Homo sapiens: one gene and its partners. Changing the gene in region 6 together with the main gene of any one other region gives a genetic interaction. Each region holds a gene or a part of one and is shown on either strand. Other genes may lie near its edges. The genes, in order: EXOSC2, EXOSC9, MPHOSPH6, CTNNBL1, UBA2 and ZCCHC9.

Region 1 (3,500 bases), on a different chromosome or scaffold from region 6:
TGTCCTGGAGCGTGAGAGAGAGAGAGGAATCAAGGAACTCTCCGAGGTTTTTGGCCTGAGCAACTGAGGGGATGGAGTCACCGTTGACTGAGATGGGGACAACTCATCCCCTATCTCGGTTTGCTATGGAGGACTGGAGGGGGCTGCGGGAAAGCTTAGTTTTGTGCTTGATACATTTGAAAATGCCTGTTAGTCATCTAGATGGCAGAGTTGGGTAGCTAGCAGTTGAGTAGGATTTGGAATTCAGGAGAGTGGCACAGTCACAGCACAGAGTGGTGTTTTAAAGGTATTAGATTGAGTGGCCGAAAAGTGAAGAGGTCTAAGGACTTAGCCTCAGCACTGAGTACGTCTCATTAGAATCGCGGGTAAGGAACTAGCAAAGGGGCTTGAGAGGAGCAGGCAGTGAGTAAGTGGAGGAGACGTGAGCAGACTTGTGTGGTTGGAGTCCTGGCTCAGATTTCCTTTCTCTTCCTTTGGCTGGTGCAGAACTCATCCATGTGCCACAGGAAAATAGTCCGTGTTTTTCATTGTCGTGTAATCGAACAAAATAGGGTTTTTGGGCTAAATGAACTACTTGGAATGGTGATATGTCTAAGGATAGTTAATGGAGACTTTATACGTGGAGGAATGTTTGAAGTTAGCAGTTTCTGAAAGTAAGTCCAGACAATATAGTTACATGAATTTGCTGAATGTGGCGCCTGTTCCAGGCTTTCACCCTGTTGAACCGACATCTCAAATGGTGTGTGGTCTTGTCAGAAAGTCTGCTCACAGATGGATGAACCCCTTGTGTTTTGTCTTTCAGATACATTGGTGAAGTAGGAGACATCGTAGTGGGACGAATCACAGAGGTAACGTCGATATCAGATTGGTGTTTACAAAGTCGAGGCAGGCTGGCGATTTCATTCATGGGACAGTCATTCCACTTGTAGTTACATGAAAAAGGCATTCATTGCATTTGGCCGTTGTGTGGCTTCTGATGTAAATATGTGGCTTGTTCGATTTCAGATTACTGGTTCATGTTTTTTTTTTTTTGAGATGGAGTCTCGCTCTGTCGCCCAGGCTGGAGTGCAGTGGCATGATCTTGGCTCACTGCAACCTCCACCTCCCAGGTTCAAGCGATTCTCCTGCCTCAGCCTCCCAAGTAGCTGGGATTACAGGCACCCGCCACCACGCCCAGCTAATTTTTGTATTTTTAGTAGAGATGGGGTTTCATTATATTGGTCAGGCTGGTCTCAAACTCCTGACCTCAAGTGATCCACCAGCTTCGGCCTCCCAAAGTGCTGGGATTACAGGCGTGAGCCACCACATCTGGCCTTACTGGTTATTTATGATATGACACATGAACATGGAGCATGTGTCCAGGTGTGGAACTTGGCTTATAGGTTCAACAGAAGAGGTGGAAGGTGGAGACCAACTCCAGGCTGGATTCGGTCTTGCTGCTCTCGTCCATGAACCTTCCTGGAGGAGAGCTGGTAAGGGCTACAGCTGGGGCCATGGACTAGGGCCCAGTGGGCTGGGGGGAGCCGTGGGACCCTTTGTTCCACCAGAGGACTTTGATTTACACTGAGGTTGCCCCTTTGACTCCTGTTTGTCTGCTGTGAAGTTTGCTGCCTAGATGTGTATGTAGACTTTTCACCCTGTCCAGGTCTCCCGAAAGAGGGAGCAGTTGGCATATGGTAGGATCAGAAACATCCATGGGGTGGGATCCCAACAGAGAGTTGGGGAGAGAAGCCCTTAGATGCTGGTTGTTAACAGTTTTCCTTTTTGGATATAACAGCCTTGCATAGTGAAGATGTTCCTTGAAAAGTTGTCTTTACATTAGGTTTTTGTGAATTGAAAGGCATTTCATTCAACCATGTGTGGAATGTGGTTGCTGGCATTCCAGACAACCACAGTAACTAAGCCACAGCCTTTTGTAAAATGCCATGGTTCACCTTGATCTTCAGTCCAGCGTGTATTTACAGAGAGGCTTACTGTGCCAAGCTCTGTGCCGAGTGCCAAGCACGATTGAGTTCCCCAGCAGGGGATATAAGATAACTGACCTAGTCCCTGGCAGTAGAAGAATAAATAAGCTGTGGTTATACAAAAGGAAATTTCAGTGAGAGAAGCTTGTAGGAAAGACAGGCATTGGAGTTGATCCTGGAAGGATGGAGAGACTTTGAATGACTAGTTCAGGGAATCTGAGATAAAGGGAAATGTATGAGCAGAGATATATCCAAGCAGGAGTTAGTCTGGTCCTGCTGGACCACAGAGGGCTGTCATGGAAGATGACTATGGAAATGTTGGCTAGGTGAGATTGGGAGGGGTCTGAATGTTCCTCAGAGAAGGGAGGGAAAGAGGAAGAGGAGCTGTGGAAAAGTCTTTTGAGATGGAAAGTCGTGATTATCACTGATTCCCCTCAAGTGGCTTGGGTTACCTACTCTTGCTATAGTTCTCAGTGCTTGAATATTGTGGTTGGCCTCAAACATCTCAAAAGGAAGTGAAAGAGAAGTGATGGAGACCTTTCTGAGGATCTGGCTTAAGTAATGTCATTTCTTTGTGTATTTCAGAGGAGAAGATCTGCAGAAGATGAGCTTGCAATGAGAGGTTTCTTACAGGAAGGGGACCTTATCAGTGTATCCTGCGCTTTGCACTCCAGCCTCTTGATGCTTTTCTGTGGGACTGGGAAATGGGCCTTCCATTGTATGTCTCTGACGGAAGAACCATGTCATCCTTGCAGGGATCCGAGTCTTAGACCAAGTGTCGGGCTCTGCTGCATCCTTTCTCAGTCTCCTTAATTCAGGCTGACTCCCCAGCTCTTGTTGGGACCTGCTGCTAAGTCATTTCTTTGGGTCTTGTAACTTACGGTGGCCTGTGCTTTAGACTAGGCTTTTGTTAATGGTGTTAACTTTTAGCGCAGGGAGTGGAGAAGGTGTTGTTCACGTCAAGATATTAATGACAGGCCGAGTGTGGTGACTCATGCCTGTAATCCCAGCGCTTTGGAAGGCCAAGGAGGGAGGACTGCTTGAGCCTAAGAGTTCAAGACCAGCCTGGGCAACATAGCAAGACCCCCCTCTCTACAAAAAAATTAAAAAAGAATTAGCCGGGCGTGGTGGCACATGCCTGTAGTCCTAGCTACTCAGGAGGCTGGGGCCAGAGGGTTGCTTGAGCCCAGGAGCTCAAGGCTACAGTAAGCTATGATCACACCACTGCATTCCAGCTTGGGTGACAGAACAAGACTCTGTCTCTATTTTATGTTATTTTTTAAATTTTTCTTTTTTTTTAATGACGGAGTCTTGCTCTGTTGCCCAGACTGGAGTGCAGTGGCGCGATCTCGGCTCACTGCAACGTCCGCCTCTTGGATTCAAGCAATTCTGCCTTAGCCTCCCAAATAGCTAGGATTACCGGCGTGCGTCATGCCTGGCTAATTTTTGTATTTTTAGTAGAGACAGGTTTCACCATATTGGCCAGGCTGGTCTCAAACTCCTGACCTCAGGTGATCTGCCCACCTCGGCCTCCCA
Region 2 (3,500 bases), on a different chromosome or scaffold from region 6:
TGGTTTTTAACAGACATGATAAAAATGTAATTAGATTTGAGGTTAGGAAAATCGTAGTATTAAATGTTAGAGTGGTTCTGTTTATTTAAAGTATGTGTTCTGTTGTTAAACGACCCACATAGTATTTCAGATGTTTGGCTTAAATTTTCTAAAATATATTTTTTGTTGACAAAGTACAAGGAGTAACTGCGTGTTTTAACAGCAAGAAAAAATAATTTGTACACAATGTTACTTTTCCTGATAAATAGCCACTGGTTGTAATCAGTTAGGATTTATTTTTATTTTAAATTCACTATCAGGTTTGGCAAATACGTGTAGACCTACATTTATTAAATCATGATGGAAATATTATTGATGCTGCCAGCATTGCTGCAATCGTGGCCTTATGTCATTTCCGAAGACCTGATGTCTCTGTCCAAGGAGATGAAGTAACACTGGTAAGCTCCTATGTGAACCAGGATCCTTGATATGAATGAATGAGGAGGGTCTTAAATGTGCAGGCAACTTGTTTTTAGTGAAGTTATGTTGTAGATGGCAATTGGGTCGTTTCTAAAAATTTGTTTGTAAGACTGAAACTGCATATGGTCAAAATTGCCCTGGAAATCTCTTAACCGTTCCTCTGTTGAAACATTTGTCAGTAAGAACATACCCTAGCCTGGTTTTCCAGAATAGAATTAGATGACTATTTTGGATTGAACATTAGATGAAGTGGTTGACTTATGTTTAGGGGCCATATGTGTGAAAAATACATGAATCTCAGCACAGTGAGATGCTTACCCTGCAAGAGGCATGCAATAGCTGAAAAGCACTGAGGAATCAGCAGGTTCATATTTGTCTCCAGGACTTTTGTTCATTAGGCAAAGAGATGACGAAAGTCCATCAGAAATACCTGGAGGGCTTGTTAAAACGTATAGCCAGACTACTCCCAAAGTAAAACAGGGCTAGGACTTAAGATTTTGTACTTCTAACTTTGAGTTCTTAGGTAATACTGATGTTGCTGGTCCAGGGAGCACATTTTGAAAACCATTGACCTACGTTGTCTTTATCTTTTGTTCTGAGTATGTCAGTTTTGATTTATATAAATTACATGCTAGAATAGTGAAAGTGCACTGTAGTTGTAGTTTGAATCCTGAAGTTGCAAAAGGACACATCAGATGCCCAGATTTTCTAAGCAATGATTCATAATTTTGATTTTGGGCAGTAGACTGAAGCAGAACCATTAAAAAGTGAGAAATAGGGACAAAGGTTTATTAACAGTAGAGGTAATATTCTTTTAGAGGAGGGAGTTTATATAAGGAAGTGAAAAAAAGTAGAAAGCGATTACTACACTTGAAAAATCAATTAAAGAATACTGTGGTGTTATTGCTAGTGGGAATGTAAAATGGTACAGCCATGTTGGAAAAGTTTGGTAGCTTAAGTTTTAAGTGTAGACAGCATTCTATATTCAGAAAAATAACAGTAGAAGAAAATATTCTTTTTTTTTTTTCTTTTTTTTTTTTTTGAGACAGGATCTCACTCCGTTGTCCAGGCTGGGGTGCAGTGGCGTGATCTCGGCTCACTGTAACCTCTGCCTCCTGGACTTAAGCAATCCTCCCACCTCAGTCTCCTGAGTAGTGGGGACTACAGGTATGTGCCACCCACTTGACTAATTTTTGTATTTTTTGTAGAGATATGGTTTCACCAAATTGCCCAGGCTGGTCTCGAACTCCTGGGCTCAAGTGATCCTCCCACCTTGGCCTCCCAAACTGTTGGGATTACAGGCATGAGCCACCATGCCCAGCTGAAAACACTCTCTTATATGTACATCTTTCAGCAGGTTTGACCTTGTAATTTTTTTTTTTTCTTTTGAGACAAAGTTTCACTGTTGTTGCCTAGGCTAGAGTACAATGGCGTGATCTCGGCTCACTGCAGCCTCCGCCTCCCGGATTCAAGCGATTCTCCTGCCTCAGCCTCCCAAGTAGCTGGGATTGCAGGCATGTGCAACCACGCCTGGCTAATTTTGTATTTTTAGTAGAGACAGGGTTTCTCCATGTTGGTCAGGCTGGTCTTGAACTCCCAACCTCGTCCACATCGGCCTTCCAAAGTGCTGGGATTACAGACGTGAGCCACTGCCCCCAGCCGACCTTATAATGTTAAAACAAACTGCAATGGCTTAAAATTAGAAAAAAAAAAAAAAATTCTAGCAATTCCATGCCTAAGAATCTACGGGAGGAATAAGAGCTTACTACGTTCAGAGACTTCAATGCAAGTGTTCATAGCATCATTTGTTAGCCAGAAACTGGAAACAATCCAAATGTCCAGCTGGTGAATAGATAAAATGTCATATATACAAATAATGGAATGCTGTTCAGTAATGAAAAGAACTGAACTACTGATAAATGCTGCAAGGTGCATGAAACATGCTAAGTTGAAAGAAGCCAGGCACAAAACATTACAACTTTTTTTTTTTCCATTTATATAGAATGCTCAGAAAGTCAGATTTATAGAGACAGAAATAAGATAGATCAGTGATTCCTTGGGGCTAGGGTGGGAGTACACCAGACTCCTACGGACTACAGACAGATTCAAAGGAATTTTGGGGAGTAATGGAAATGTTAAAAAACTAGATTGTGGTGATGGGTCCGTAAATGTATCCATAACTATACATTTACTAAAAATTGAATCATATACTTAAAATGAGTGGATTTTGGCTGGGCGTGGTGGCTCACACCTGTAATTCCAGCACTTTGGGAGGCCAAGGCAGGTGGATCACCTCAGGTTGGGAGTTCGAGACCAGCCTGACCAACATGGAGAAACCCCGTCTACTAAAAATACAAAATTAGCCGGGCGTGGTGGCACATGCCTGTAATCCCACCTACTTGGGAGGCTGACATAGGAGAATCGCATGAGCCCAGGAGGCGGAGGTTGCCGGGAGCTGACATCTTGCCATTGCACTCCAGCCTGGGCAACAAGAGTGAAACTTCATCTCCAAAAAAAAAAGTGGATTTTATGGGATGTAAATTATGTGTCAGTAAATTTTTGAAAAAGCTTTTTGAAAAAGTTGTACAGTTTGAGGAACGTGAGTGGCAAAATCAAACTGGTAATTAATTAAAAGAAGTTATTTAGGTACTCAAAAGAATAAAGGAACTTCATTTTTTAGTATTTGATGTGCAAGATGATTTTTTTGGATGTTCATAACTTAGTGACTATAATTATTAAACATTTTCTTTTGAAACAGTATACACCTGAAGAGCGTGATCCTGTACCATTAAGTATCCACCACATGCCCATTTGTGTCAGTTTTGCCTTTTTCCAGCAAGGGTAAGCCTCGCCTTATTATGGGCCAAAATTACAAATGCAGCTAGGAATTTTATTGCTCTACTCAAGTATGTCATGTTAATATTAAACAAACACTTCCCTTAATAGTAAAGCACCTTGTATTTCCTTTCTTTCTTTGTAAGGGCATTAGTTGGCAAAGAACTTTCTCAGTAGAAGTAACAAAACTCTTATACTTTGATGAA
Region 3 (3,500 bases), on a different chromosome or scaffold from region 6:
ACAGAGTTCATTAGGTTGAGCATTTTAAGGCAGGTCAGAAGTTTTTGTTTCTTCTTTTAAATTGTTACTACTTGTAATACCATCCATTTTAGCTAACATTTACTGAATCTATAGTGTGTACCAGGAACTGGGCTAAACACTTTACATCTGTAGTTATTGAATCTTCGTAGCAAACTTAGGAACTGCCTCCTATGATTCTGTCACTTTGTAGTTGAGGAACTGAGCTTAAGGGAGGGTAACTTGCCCAGCTTCACCCAGCTAGTCAGTGCTGAAGGCTGGGGTAGACAGTTTCTGGCCCACCCCTAAGCTTGGCTGGTGCCTGATCAACAATTTTGAATGAAGGAGTGTTGGATTTATTTCATCCATTAATTTAGCTGAATCCTTCTGGAAGCTATTTTTCATTTTTCCCTGATACTTTCCTCACCTTAGTAAGCTCTGTTGTATGGTAGTTTTACTTAAACTTTGGTCAAATGACTGAAGATGCTGCTTACTGTCTTGAGGCACATTTATGTGTTTCCATTCTGTACCTGATGTTTGGGCTTTGATTTGGAATGTTATATTCCCCTGTTCATTTGGCTGACCTCTGGACATTGTTTGAAGGTTAGATACCCTTCTCTAAAGATAGAAAGTATGTCCCACCAGGAGGGATCGGGAGAAGGTACTTTTTTTCTCTGCTTCTCAGAGGAAGCAAGATGTTGGTGAGGAGGGAGAAGATAGTGCCAGGGGCAGGGTCACAGGGAGGAAGGGACCTTTGCTGCTGGAGCTATAATTTACTTTTATGCCTTAAGTAAACTTGCCAAAGTGTTCCTTCCAGTTGTTTATTAAAGAGCAGGACTGTTTCTATCTTGTTTCCAGTATTTTTCCCCTAATACAGCATATTATTCCCAGAAAATGACCTTTACATTTCTTTCTGGGAAGGTAAATAATGCCTTTTTGCCATTACTCAGCATCCTGTTTATGTATAGGTGTGTATATCAGCTCAGGATGTTGGCAGGAGAAGATGACACTCTCAGACTGAGGAGAGACTATCAAGGTGTGGGTGGGGCATAGGGGGGCCCCTCGGGGCAGTGCAGCACCTCCTAGCATGTGTAGTGGGAGTGATTACCACCTGAGCTTGCAGAGTCAACGGGTGGGTGGGGAATAGCTGCTACCGAATCTGCAGATAAGTTGTGTAGAGAGAGCACCTTACAGGAGCTGCTACCTCCATTCACGGGTACGGCCAGCCCAAGGTCATCCTAGCAAGGGAGCCAGGTACCTGGCAGCAAAGGAGCCCTTCCGTGCATTACGTTCAAGTCAGCCTCCCAGGCCAGAGAAACAGGTGAAGACGGGAAGTAGGTCTGGAGGGGTGAATGGATGACATGTCCTTGGTATACGTGTTGTATTGAGTTGTTGTTTTTAACACTCTAAATAGGGAGATCATGGAATGGATTGGTTGATTAAGCACATGGGCTCTGAAGTCAGGCAGACCTGGGTTTGATGCCCAGCTCCGCCAGTTGTTTACTTGTCACCTTGGGTGAGTTACTTAACCTGTTTTGTGTCATTTGTGTATTGGGTATGATGATAGTACCTGTCCAGTACATTCCGAGAAGTAGATGAGGTAATATATGTAAAACAGTCACCATAACACCAGGCATAAAGCACAGTGATTGTCACCATTGTGTGTATTTCCTTATATCTGAATATATGAAGTACACCCATTCCTTTCTACTCACTTATGTTTGTGTATCCTTTTTTGCTAGTGTTGTCTTAACTATTCTGTGAATTTGGAGATTGCATGTGTCTGTGCTCTGAAAGTCTCGACTTTCCCATTTTTAATGTCAGCCGTATCAGTCTGTAATTCAGTGAAGATAATTAGGGCTATTCAGTGTTAACACTGCCTCACAGGGGACACTTTTAGCCAGTGGCTAGACCATGTAGGGGAATGATGATCTAGCTGCTGTGCCTCAACTTGGAACAACTGAAGGGCATTCCTGACTCCAGAGCTCTCATATGTGGCTGAGGCCTTAGTGTAGCCACATTGCCCATTATCTTCTCCCTCTGCCCAATCCTTCTTTCTCTGTTTTCCTAGAAGGGCATCTGCTGAACAACACTGCCTGCTAAGTTTTCTGCATATATGTCTGTCTCAGAGTCTGTTTCCAGGGAACCCGATATAGTGTGAATTCCTAGGAGTGAAATTTACCAGATGAAAGATTTTGCTATCTATTGCCTTATTGTTTTTTTCCCCAAGGATATGGTCCAGAAAGAGTGTGCAAGTATAGGCAGTTTAATTCCTCCTTTGCCGTAGCAAGTTGTTTAAGAAGTATTTTTGGCTATTGTACATCTTATACTTGTGTTTTGTGGTCTGTTTGGAGTCAGAAGCTATAGGGACCTGAAACTAACAAGTTAGCCTGCCACACTTTCACTGATGCTGGTGGAAGATAGGAACCTTCTGGGTCTGAGATGTAGGGGAGGGACAATAGCCTTTCCTTCCACCCATTTGAAGTTCATTAGTTGGGGTCCCTGTAACAAAAGACAGATTAACAAAGAGAAAGGTATACACTTTTATTTCACAAAAGTTTTAGGTGACACAGGAGCCTTCATAAGAAAATGAATACCGAAGAACTGGTTGAACCTGAGTGTTTTTATGTTAGCTTTGATGAAGAGTGGAAAGTTGTGAAGAAATATGATGGGAGCAAGGGGTATGAACGAAGAGTAATAAGCCAGGAGAAACTTAGCAAGTCTTTTGTTCAGATTCCTCTCTCTGTCCCTTCTTCTGAGATAAGGATGTTGCTTTCCTCTGAGTGTAGGGAGGGCACCTCTTATGTGAGATGCTTTTATGACCTGCTTCAGGGGACAGTCAGAAAATCCTACCTGCACGTCATTTTTCAGATTCCTCCAGTGTAAAATTTTCAGTATGCCAAGATGCCATATTTTGGGAGTAGTGTCTCCTGAACACCATCAGAAACAAAGGACTTACTGTACAGCAAGCAGCACAAGCATCAAGTTTGCGTCATTTCTCTTTTGTCCCCAACTCCTATGAGGGATGGCGTGAAGTGGCCCAGGTGGATGCTGTGCACCCAGTGGATTTGCATCATAGCTGAGATCTCCTGAGCTTAGAAAACTGGAACCTTGGATAACGGACCACAAGCAGACTTGCCTTCGGCCCCAAGAGAGGCATCTGTATTATGCTGGACAGTAAGCAAATCTGCCCTTCGCTTTAGAGGAAGACTGTTTTTCAAGGCTGCTCGCTATGCAGATATCCTTGCAAAGATAGTCCAGAGCAACCGGGCAGTTAGTGCCTCACTCAAAAAATGTGCAGGAATGTGAGACCCACTGAGAAGGGTTTTCTAACTGGAGTTTTGCCATGGTATTTGTGGCTTTAGGCAAGTCCAGCTTTTTCTGAGCAGTAGTTTCTCATCTGCGAAATTTATGAAATAATTTTGTGGGTGTGTTTTAGCCTGAAAATTATCCTCATTAATGAAAATTGGATAATTAAAATACAAAAAGAGGTAAGTTTTGAA
Region 4 (3,500 bases), on a different chromosome or scaffold from region 6:
CAGTGCACAGGGTTCTCTTTTCTCTACACCCTCAACAACACTTTATCTTCTGTCTTTTTCATGATAGCCATTCTGATAGGTGTGACATGATAACTCATTGTGATTTTTCTTTGCATTTCCCTGATGATTAGTGATGGTAAGCATTTTTTTCATATATCTTCTGGCCATTTGTACATCTTCTTTTGAGAAGTGTCTATTTAGGTCCTTTGCCCAGGCTCTGGGCCTTACTCAACTCTTCTGTAAAATAGAATTGGGAGTACAGTAGACATTCAGAAGTTACATATGTAATATTTTATGTTTGTACTATTTGTGAGTAACTGTAAAAAAGGCTTTGTAATCTTACGTAGATGTGAATTAAAACCAGGTGCTAAGACGCTGGCATTGGGAGTTATATCTTGACTAGTATGTGAGCCTAACCCAGTGTCCCCATCTTAAGATAGCTTTGTTGCTATTTCCGTATACATAGGAACTTTTGTGAAATGGCAAAACTGCGTATAAAAAAATTCCCACTGACTTTCATGGTATATTTATAGAATCATTAAGGATCTGAAAAATGACCACATAGAGCTTTACCCCATGTGGTGGGAGAAGTTGTATGCTGGATGCTTTTGAGTCAGAGAATTCTTGAAAGCTTTTAGGATATTTGCTGTCTATGCCTTGCAAAGTCTTTTTTTGTATTTTTTGTAGAGTCAGGGTTTTACCATGTTGCCTCAGGCTGGTCTCAAACTCCTGGGCTCAAGAGATCTGCCTGCCTTGGCCTCCCAAAGTGCTGGGATTATAGGCATGAGCCACCACGCCTGGCTTCTATGTTGTATCCAGCTCTAAAATCTTATGTTTCTTTTCTCTCAGCCCAATAGGGGCACAAAACGTCCCCGGGATGATGAAGAGGAGGAGCAGAAGATGCGTCGGAAACAAACTGGTACTCGAGAACGCGGCCGCTATCGGGAAGAAGAAATGACTGTGGTGGAGGAAGCGGATGATGACAAAAAAAGGCTGCTGCAGATTATTGACAGAGATGGGGAAGAGGAAGAGGAAGAGGTAACGTGGCAGCGCTGGGTGGGAGCTGAGATGGCTGGCCCTGTAAAACGTAATTTTGGGCCAAATACTAAGCTTGTCTGAGCTTCCCATCTTCATCTGTAAAATGGGGTTAAGAATTCATATTTCATCGCGTTAATGTGAAGGTTAAGTGGGCTAGTGCAGTTGGGAAAGCATCTTATGAGATGTAAAGAATGTGACAGAGTTTTAAAATTGTTCCATATTATGTACTGTAGGGGAGGGTCAGGGCAGGCTTCCTGGATCTTACTGAGGACACATAGAAGGCACTTGCATTATTATCTTTGAAAGAGGGGTCAAATTTCACCAAGTGGAAGGAAGGGCTTTTTGGGCAGAGAAAATGGTATTAGCAAAGCAACAAAAGTGGAGAAGTTTAATGGGTTCCACAGTATTAGGTATTTAGGTGTGACTGCAAAAGTACAGCTTAGGGAAGGAGATTCCTCGGGCCTTTCCCTTTGCTGTTCCTCAAGATGCGTTGGGGCCTTTCCACTCATTCCTGCCTCTGGACCTTTGGACTTCTGTGTCCTCTGTTGGAATGCTCGTCTCCCTTAATGCTTTGTATGACTGGTTTCTTCACATTCAGGTCTCAGTTCAGATGTTTCCTCCTCCAAGAAGTCTTTCCTATGTAGCCCTGCAAGCCATTCTCTCATTTCCTCATTACTGTATTTTGTATATTGTCTGCATAGCACGTATCATGATTTGAAATTCTAGTTGTTTATTTTGCTCATTGCTGTCCTCCTCTCAGCCTCCCATGAAAACAGAGACTGGCTCTGTTCTGTTCACAGCTCTATCTTTGGCACCCAGAGCAATACCTAGCTCTTGGTAGGCCCTTAATAAATATTTATTGAATGAATAAATGAATGAAGCTGGGAAGAGTAGAGGTAAAATATCAGTGATTAAAAACAAAATGACCTTACCTCTGTGTCTTTTTAAATCTTTAAGTGTTAACTTGTGTGTTATTTCACTCTGGCATTTTGTTCAATATGAATTATGGAAATAAGAGTCTTAAGAGCCAGCTGTTTTTTGGTTCTCTCAAAGACACGATGCTAAGTTTGGATTACAAAATGAGGTTGGCTGTGAATCTGAGAAGAAGAAAAAATGGATTCATATTCCAAAAAGGTCTTTACTGTGTTGTGACAATAGCTCTGTCTTTATTAGGATTTGTACTAGTGCTAATTTGGGGGTCTCCCGCTAAAAGATGATGGCACTTTAGAAATACGTGGTGGGAGACAGTCCTGAATTTTTTAATTTCCTCTCTGAGGGCAGCAGCCTTGCCAGGGCTTAGACAAACAGTGTGTGTAGCACATCCTCCCTCCCTTCCCTCCTCACCAGCTTCTGCTCAATCTGTTAGCCCTGCAGCAGCAGTTAATTGGCAGGTATAATTCCCATGTAGGGCAAGGCTGGTACTGGAGGATTAGGATAGTAGCTGTCATGGGTAAGTGGTTTCTAGCCTGGGAGACAGAAATGTAATGTGGGACCAACCCGTCTGTTAAGGGACAGGGAAAAAGAGATCGCTTTGTAAAAATGACACATGGAAGGCTACAAGTCCAGGAGTTATTTTCTCACTGCCACTGAAGTCCCATTTGATGAAAAACAAGTGATGTTTGCCCCTGTAAAGTCACGTGAACTTGTAAAATATTATTGTCCTTTTTGTGCTACATCATCAGCATTCATCTTTCTGAAATCTCCCTCTGGTTTCTGACGTTGAGCTATTGGAGATACTGCTGTGGCTGATGACTAAGACTGATAATTCAGTTTTCCCCCAGTGTTGGAGAGAAATTAAAGGAGGGAAGGCCAAACCCCGGAGAGGCTAGGACTTCGGAAATCCCATGAGAGCTGTGTTAACACTAATGTGGTTTTTCTCCAGAGTGGGGCAAGATGTTAGCTAAGAAAAGAAAAAGTAGCAGATATTGAGCTTACTTGAAAGTGATTTAACCCTTTCCTAGAAATGTTTTGATTATTTTAGTTAAATTCTAGTGGTATGTTGGGTACATTGTGCCTGTTGCTGATAATAACCATAACAGCTTGCATTCATGTAGTTTACAAAGTAGTTTTATGTACATCCTTTCTTTAGGTCATCTCTATGACCTTGAGAGATAACAGGTAACAATTTCATTCATCCCCTTCCTTCCCCTCCCCTCCCCTCCTCCCTTCCTCCATTCCTCAGATCTTCACTGAGTACCTGCTGTGTGCCAGACACTGGAGAGTCTACTTATGCCAGAGAACAAGTAGACATGGGCTAGCAATGGGAGTCTTTGCACTGGTTTGGGGTTGGAGAGATTATCTGGGCAGATCCTGCCAGATCCTTACGTAGATCATGTGAGGGATTTGGGATTTTATTCTAAGTGTGTAGTGGATGAGTTCAGGAAAGACTTAGGAGATAGAATTAGCTGGACTTGATGAAGCTTTGAGAAATATATTCAGCAAAGTAACATTGTCCCATGGCT
Region 5 (3,500 bases), on a different chromosome or scaffold from region 6:
CCGCCCACCTCGGCCTCCCAAAGTGCTGGGATTACAGGCATACAGGCATGAGCCACTGCGCCCGGCCTTTTTTTTTTAAACTGATGGGGTCTTGCTATGTTGTCCGGGTTGGTCCTGAACTCCTGGGCTCAAGCAGTCCTCCCACCTTGGCCCCCCAAAGTGCTGGGATTACAGGTGTGAGCCACTGCACTTGGCCCGATGCGCTCTTTTTTTCCTTTTCTTTTTCTTTTTTTTTTTTTTTTTTGAGGTGGAATCTTGCTCTCACCCAGGCTGGAGTACAGTGGAGTACAGTGATGTGATCTCGGCTCACTGCAACCTCCACCTGCTGGGTTCTAGCGATTCTCCTGCCTCAGCCTCTCAAGTAGCTGGGATTACTGGCACATGCCACCACACCTGGCTAATTTTTGTATTATTAGTAGAGACGGTGTTTCACCTGTTGCCCAGATTGGTCTCAAACTCCTGGCCTGAAGTGATCCGCCCTTCTCAGCCTCCCAGAGTACTGGGATTTCAGGCGTGAGCTATTGCGCCCAGCCTCGATGCACTCTTAAAATATTTTATTTTCATGAAATTTCAGTTTGAAGGAACAGAATCAAATTGCCCAGTCTGCCATCTTGATTTAGTTTTCTATTTAAACTTTTATTGTATATGTTATATTTTTAATTTCTAAGAACTTTATTTTTTGGTATCTTTTTTTTGAGATGGAGTCTTGCTCTGTCACCCAGGCTAGAGTGCAGTGGCGCGATCTCAGCTCACTGCAACCTCCACCTCCCAAGTAGAAGTGATTCTCCTGCCTCAGCCTCCCCAGTAGCTGGGATTACAGGCGGGTGCCACCACGCCTGGCTAATTTTTGTAGTTTTAGGAGAGACAGGGTTTTACCATGTTAGCCAGGCTGGTCATGAACTCCTGACCTCAGGTGATCTGCCCACCTTGGCCTCCCAAAGTGCTAGAATTACAGGAGTGAGCCACCGTTCCTGGCCGATACCCAGTTTTTAAATTATTTAAAAAAAATTTTTTATAGCAGCCTGAAGCTGTAGTATCCCTTTGAGCTCACCAACAGTACTAATTACTGAACTTATTAAAATGTCTGTTATTTCCCATCACATCCTTCCGGTTTCTTTGCCTGCTTAGCTCCATGCCACTCTTGGACTATTAATAGTAATATATCTGGCCGGGCACGATGGCTCACACGTGTAATCCCAGCTCTTTGGGAGGCCGAGGCAGGCAGATCACCTGAGATTGGAAGTTCGAGACTAGCCTGACTAACGTGGAGAAACCTGGTCTCTACTAAAAAAAAAAAAAATATATATATATATATATATATATATATATATATAAAATTAGCTGGGCATGGTGGTGCATGTTTGTAATCCCAGCTACTCAGGAGGCTGAGGCAGGAGAATCACTTGAACCTGGGAGGCGGAAGTTGCATTAAGCCGAGATCGCGCCATTGCACTCCAGCCTGGCAACAAGAGCGAAACTCTGCCTCAAGAAAAAATATAGTAATATATCTGGATTTCATTTTTTTACATTTGCAAATGAATTCCAGCCTGGATTAATGTTAGCCCAGGTATTAATAGTGGTAGCAATTGCTTTTATTATTGTCAGTTTCCCTTAGCACACTTACCTTCCCGGTGAAGCCCAAAATCAAACAAATCTTTCTCCCTCTGTAGCCTGCTTGGCCTGGGCAGTTTGCTTCTAGCCCTTCCACCTACCAGTATTCATTGTACGGAGAAGCTATTTTACAGAGGACGGCTTTAGTGTCTCTTGAGGGATTTAGTTCTGTATTCTCAGGGGAATCCGTAGAGTACTCCTTTAGAATTCATTCCTCTTAGCAGACTCAACACTACATTGTAGTCACAAGATAAAGGTTTGTGTCTCAGCTTCTTGTCTTCTGACATTTGTTGTTTCTGTTGGATCTTGCTAGTGTTTTCTAAACTTTAGTAGAAGCAGGAGCTTGGAGCTTTTCTTAATTTCAGTGTAATTTGTATATTTGCCTTGGTTCTTAATTATTTTTTTGTTTAGTATTAGAGAAATGGTAAATAGGTACATATACTGCCAGAAATACATTTTTTTCCCTCATTATATAAATGTTATTCTAATCAGAAAATTTGGGAAGGCAGTGATGTTGATTCTAGACAACTGTGAAAGGCACTATCGTTAACTGGAGAAATTAATGTGTTGGTCTTGTCAGGAGATTGCTTGCTTGATAAGAATAGCCTCAGGGAGGGACACCAGCTGCTGATACAATGATGGCACCACAGATTAACATGCCTGTGCCCTTACTCTTGCCAAATCAGGTTGCAGAAGAACGCGGAGTCTTATATAATACAAGGAGATGTCTTTTCAGCAAGCCTAGCTAGCCTAGCCTTTAGCTGATTAGAAAAGAAGGTTGAGGCCGGGCGCGGTGGCTCACGCCTGTAATCCCAGCACTTTGGGAGGCCGAGGCGGGCGGATCACGAGGTCAGGAGATCGAGACCATCCTGGCTAACACGGTGAAACCCCGTCTCTACTAAAAAAAAAATACAAAAAATTAGCCGGGCGAGGTGGCGGGCGCCTGTAGTCCCAGCTACTCGGGAGGCTGAGGCAGGAGAATGGCGTGAACCCCAGGGGGCGGAGCCTGCAGTGAGCCGAGATTGCGCCACTGCACTCCAGCCTGGGCGACAGCAAGACTCCGTCTCAAAAAAAAAAAAAAAAAAAAAAAAAAAAAAAAAAGAAGGTTGAAAAACCAGGTTCCTAAAAAGGTCATGATTTTCCTGATCCATTTTGCCATCTGGACGGGAATTTTTAAGTCATTTTTTATTGGATATCTGGTAAACGAGATTTTAGATTGTATGGCGTATAAAATTACAGCACGTTTCCGATTTCTGCCTGTTATTTCTCCTCCAAAGATTTTTTTGAATAAACAACCAAACCCAAGAAAGAAGCTTCTTGTGCCTTGTGCACTGGATCCTCCCAACCCCAATTGTTATGTATGTGCCAGCAAGCCAGAGGTGACTGTGCGGCTGAATGTCCATAAAGTGACTGTTCTCACCTTACAAGACAAGGTCAGTGCAAGGCCTGGGTCTCTTTTCCTTTTGCTTTTACAGTATTACTGTGATGACAAACAAACACTAGCTGCTGATTCTGAAAAGGTCCAACTGCAGAGATGTGTGGCTGTGATTTCCTGGGTTATTTTGCCTTCTGGATTCCTGCAGGCTTTTCTGTCTGTGGTTCCAGAATAAGTGCCTCACATTCCCAGAATGGAGTAGGAGTATTTGACTGGAATCTGCAGCACAGTGGTGGCACAGTATCACAGCAAGCAGAGGACTTCTTTGCTCTTTGCTTCCCAGGCAGTGGGTAAATTCTGTATTTTTTGACAAATAACAGGTATCCTTGAATGGTCCTCACTGTGGCAGTGAGCAGATAAGTATTTGCATGCAGTGCAAAGTTTGCATTTCCAGTAGAGCAAAGCCCCAGTTACCAGCTTTGTATTAAAGGGTATAAGTAACTTGCAGAGTTTT
Region 6 (3,500 bases):
TCTGTAAGTAACAGAATTGGCTCTATTATATTAAATTCATTAGTTAGCAAATATAAATGCTTATGAATCAGGTGTCTTATAAAGTCAGGGTCCCCTAAGGCTTACTGGTCACTTTTTTCCCCCAACTATTCAGTTACTCAATACTATGTGTGTCTATTGCTGACAGAGATTAAGTCATTGCTACAGTAGGAAAACAGGTTGTCTTAAAATCATTAGTATCCCAATTGAGTTATTAATAACAAGTGCAGAATAAAACGCAGAGGAATACTAATCTCACCCCTTCTAAGTAGAGGCCCAGAGATCTCACCTGAATTCTGACTTTCAGGGCAATCTTTCTTTAAATGTTCCACAGAGCCACAAAGTTTGCAACCGCCACCTATTGAAAGAGCAAAGCCACTGAATACCATCTCATACTTGCAAGGGGTTTTTAACATCTCAAAGCACTTTCACATCTTACTGGATCCTCACAACCCTGTCAGTTGTAAAGGTAGCTAGACCAGGATCATAGGGAGGTGCCACTATTCCTATTAATTCATTCTCCATTCCTTTTAACCTCACAGAGCACTAAATTGTACCCACCCACTGCTTCTTGCACCTGGCCTTGAGAAGTAGGAAAAAGAAATGAGATATGATGGAAGGCACTTGTTCAAGAGCTATTGCACAGAAGCCTGGATCTTAACAATGCTTAGACAATCAAGAGTCTGTGAACCCTTGGACCTGTAAACAAAAGATGTAAGCAGATGCACTTTCCTGAATAGCATGTCAGATTCTCAAACAGTCAATGGCCCAAAAACAGATTAGAAACTACTGTTCTACTGTACAGATCAGATGGGGGTAAGCATTTATGAAAGAAATAAAGTTAATTTTTGTTTCAGTGCCTTCCACTGGCCAGGCACCCTAACCCTATAAAAATGCCCACCTGCCTACTTTAAACAACATTCCAGGATTGTGAATTACAACACATGTGGTTTCTAAAATAAGTGTTTCACTTAATGATCAAACACTATTGCTTAATGGTCAAGCATTATCTTGATCATGCTCGAAATGTTAAGTGACTTAGAAAAATGACCTAATCAGATACAAATCTGGCTGAATTTTCTTTTTTTTTTCCCCCAAATCTTGACTTTATTTTTAACATAAAAATGCAAATGTGGAAACCCACCCTACTTTTCCCCCAACATAATGCTTTACCTCTTAAAAATAAAGTACTAATTCTATATACATCAAATGTACCATACAAAAATGTATCCAGTGTTTCTATTGCTACTAAAGTGTTCTAAATTAAAACAAATCGCAGAAAGCCCCTTATTGTAAACAAAAGATTACAAGGTATAAAATCAAGGCACACACAGGCAAATATGGCCAAATTTTCACATCTATGGGATCTACTCTCCTTGCTGCATTAATTTTTTTTTTTTTTTTTTTTTTTACAGCTAGTCACTTTGGTTGACCAGTGAAAGCCATTTTTGCTCACTAGTCATGTTATCTACCCAGTTTTATAAGCTCAAAACTGAAATGCACCTGAGCATTTTCCAGGCCCTGGCCTCTTTATATGCCATAGTGAAAGAGAAGCACTTGAATAATACATTTTAATCCTTATAAAAATTCTTTAGGCAAATACCATAATTCATCAACTCTAAGACACCACTGATTATAAGATGTATCATTATTGCACATACCTCTCAGAAAGAAAAACAGCTGTCAATTATATGGGACCCACCAACGGTAAGATACATTCTGATTTCCAAGAGATTAAAATTGAAAAACTGTGCATCTTAGAATCAATAAAATATAGTTTTATCATCTCCACTCTATAGGTGAGGAAACGGAGATCAGAGTTTGGTAGTTGGCCAAAGCCCCCCAGCTAGTGAGTGGCAGTGCTGGCGCTGTAACCCAAGTCTGACCAACTCCAAAAGCTATGCTTTTTCACTGGACTTCTCCAGGAGGGAAACCCAGGACATGACACAAGAAACGTCTAGAGCCTGATGGCACCAGCCATCACATTAACAGATAACAACCTCCGCCTTAAAGCTTTAGACCGCATAGACTTTACTGTGTGAACCTTAATTACCCGAGTTAAAGAGAAAAAAGCTACATGATCCCATACCAGACAAATAACTAAGAAAAAAAATTCAGAAGCAAACATTACTACAATATTGAATCATCTGTACCCACCCCTCCACCAAAATGATATGCTGGCTGAGGCTGAATATATAATACGATTTTAAAAACCTCATATTAGCTTGAGATATAATCTCTCTGCTTCTGTTATGTCTAAAAGTAGAAATGTATGACATAGTCTCACAAATGATGAAGCAAGCACAGTTGGAAATATACACCTTAGTTTTTTCTGATTTGTTTTATTAACATCTGAAGTCAAATTGCACAAAAAGCCTAGTACATATGATAGCACTTGATAAAAATAATGTAATTCTCAAGGTTTTGCAATTTATTCAAGAATTTATTCAAGAACTGTGATTGAGTGTAAATTAAATCACAACTGCACGATGACTCACCATTTCTGCTATATGAGGGTAACAGTACTTACCATCAGCATAGAGTCCTTTGGGATTATCAGGACAAGATCTAGACAGGTGCCCCATTTCTCCACAAACAAAACATTTTGCAAAAGGAAATTCGCCTGTAAAAATCAACAGTTCCTATTCAGTTGACAATACATATGGCAAGTCATAAAATTAACATTATTTTAAAATACTCTGAATAAAAAATATATTTACATAACTTAAAATTTAATCTCATATGATTTCCAAATACTAAGTGGCACACTCGTAACAAATTGTGTTAAAAAAATACCCAAGGTGCTATTTATTGGCTTTCCCCATGAACAAAACAAAAAACTGAAAGAAACACATACCAAGAGCCGGGTCTACTTTAGCCTTACACTTGGTTATTTCGTGCTCTGTGGACCCACACCTGTAACATATCCCAGTGCCCATGTCTTGATTTTCAAGGGCGGCGGGGCAATCTGCAATTCCATGACCAGGTTTTCTACAATGGAAACACACCTAGGAAAACAAAACGTAGGTTGGCACGCTGCAAAACTATACCAGTGACTTTATTAATTCTTGTTATCAAAAACATATTTAAAACATTTCTCATCTTATTAAGCTATTTTTCTGAAATCTCAATATTTGTAGAAAAAAGCTTTCATACGTTCCTAAACAACGAGATATCCTTTCCATCAGAGGGTTTCATTGCTTTTGAAAACCTCAATCAATAAATCCATAAATCTCAGGAACAATGTTATATATGTGGCTTTGTAGACGGCAATTGCTTAAATGAATTGAGCAAATATGGACTATTCATTTTATTAACTGGAATGTCTGCAGTAGAAAAATGGCATTTTCTATAGGAAATGGACAGTGGCTATAAAAACTGTCACTCAAAATTTGTATTTGTATATAATTATGTACTCAAAATTTTAAAAAATTAATATTTCTTTTAAAGTTCACATAATTGAATGAATTTGGGTCAGACAT

What was found.
Region 1: changes in ZCCHC9 (region 6) and EXOSC2 together harm fitness more than expected from each alone (negative genetic interaction), as found in Homo sapiens cells (one large-scale study listed by BioGRID).
Region 2: changes in ZCCHC9 (region 6) and EXOSC9 together harm fitness more than expected from each alone (negative genetic interaction), as found in Homo sapiens cells (one large-scale study listed by BioGRID).
Region 3: changes in ZCCHC9 (region 6) and MPHOSPH6 together harm fitness more than expected from each alone (negative genetic interaction), as found in Homo sapiens cells (one large-scale study listed by BioGRID).
Region 4: changes in ZCCHC9 (region 6) and CTNNBL1 together harm fitness less than expected from each alone (positive genetic interaction), as found in Homo sapiens cells (one large-scale study listed by BioGRID).
Region 5: changes in ZCCHC9 (region 6) and UBA2 together harm fitness more than expected from each alone (negative genetic interaction), as found in Homo sapiens cells (one large-scale study listed by BioGRID).

The regions. Positions count from the first base shown.
Region 1 is NC_000009.12:130,696,780-130,700,279, forward strand, and holds part of EXOSC2 (exosome complex component RRP4), read left to right. Parts: intron 1-802; coding exon 803-848; intron 849-1,382; coding exon 1,383-1,472; intron 1,473-2,549; coding exon 2,550-2,615; intron 2,616-3,500. UniProt on the Homo sapiens protein: Non-catalytic component of the RNA exosome complex which has 3'->5' exoribonuclease activity and participates in a multitude of cellular RNA processing and degradation events.
Region 2 is NC_000004.12:121,804,323-121,807,822, forward strand, and holds part of EXOSC9 (exosome complex component RRP45), read left to right. Parts: intron 1-299; coding exon 300-437; intron 438-3,217; coding exon 3,218-3,300; intron 3,301-3,500. UniProt on the Homo sapiens protein: Non-catalytic component of the RNA exosome complex which has 3'->5' exoribonuclease activity and participates in a multitude of cellular RNA processing and degradation events.
Region 3 is NC_000016.10:82,160,225-82,163,724, reverse strand, and holds part of MPHOSPH6 (M-phase phosphoprotein 6), read left to right. Parts: intron 1-3,500. UniProt on the Homo sapiens protein: RNA-binding protein that associates with the RNA exosome complex. Involved in the 3'-processing of the 7S pre-RNA to the mature 5.8S rRNA and play a role in recruiting the RNA exosome complex to pre-rRNA; this function may include C1D.
Region 4 is NC_000020.11:37,732,030-37,735,529, forward strand, and holds part of CTNNBL1 (beta-catenin-like protein 1), read left to right. Parts: intron 1-849; coding exon 850-1,038; intron 1,039-3,500. UniProt on the Homo sapiens protein: Component of the PRP19-CDC5L complex that forms an integral part of the spliceosome and is required for activating pre-mRNA splicing.
Region 5 is NC_000019.10:34,455,881-34,459,380, forward strand, and holds part of UBA2 (SUMO-activating enzyme subunit 2), read left to right. Parts: intron 1-2,888; coding exon 2,889-3,044; intron 3,045-3,500. UniProt on the Homo sapiens protein: The heterodimer acts as an E1 ligase for SUMO1, SUMO2, SUMO3, and probably SUMO4. It mediates ATP-dependent activation of SUMO proteins followed by formation of a thioester bond between a SUMO protein and a conserved active site cysteine residue on UBA2/SAE2.
Region 6 is NC_000005.10:81,308,087-81,311,586, reverse strand, and holds part of ZCCHC9 (zinc finger CCHC domain-containing protein 9), read right to left. Parts: intron 3,027-3,500; coding exon 2,876-3,026; exon of another isoform or gene 2,642-2,875; coding exon 2,549-2,641; exon of another isoform or gene 613-2,548; coding exon of another isoform or gene 561-612; intron 377-560; coding exon 308-376; intron 1-307. Other genes in the region: ACOT12 (acetyl-coenzyme A thioesterase), read left to right, coding at 561-612. UniProt on the Homo sapiens protein: May down-regulate transcription mediated by NF-kappa-B and the serum response element.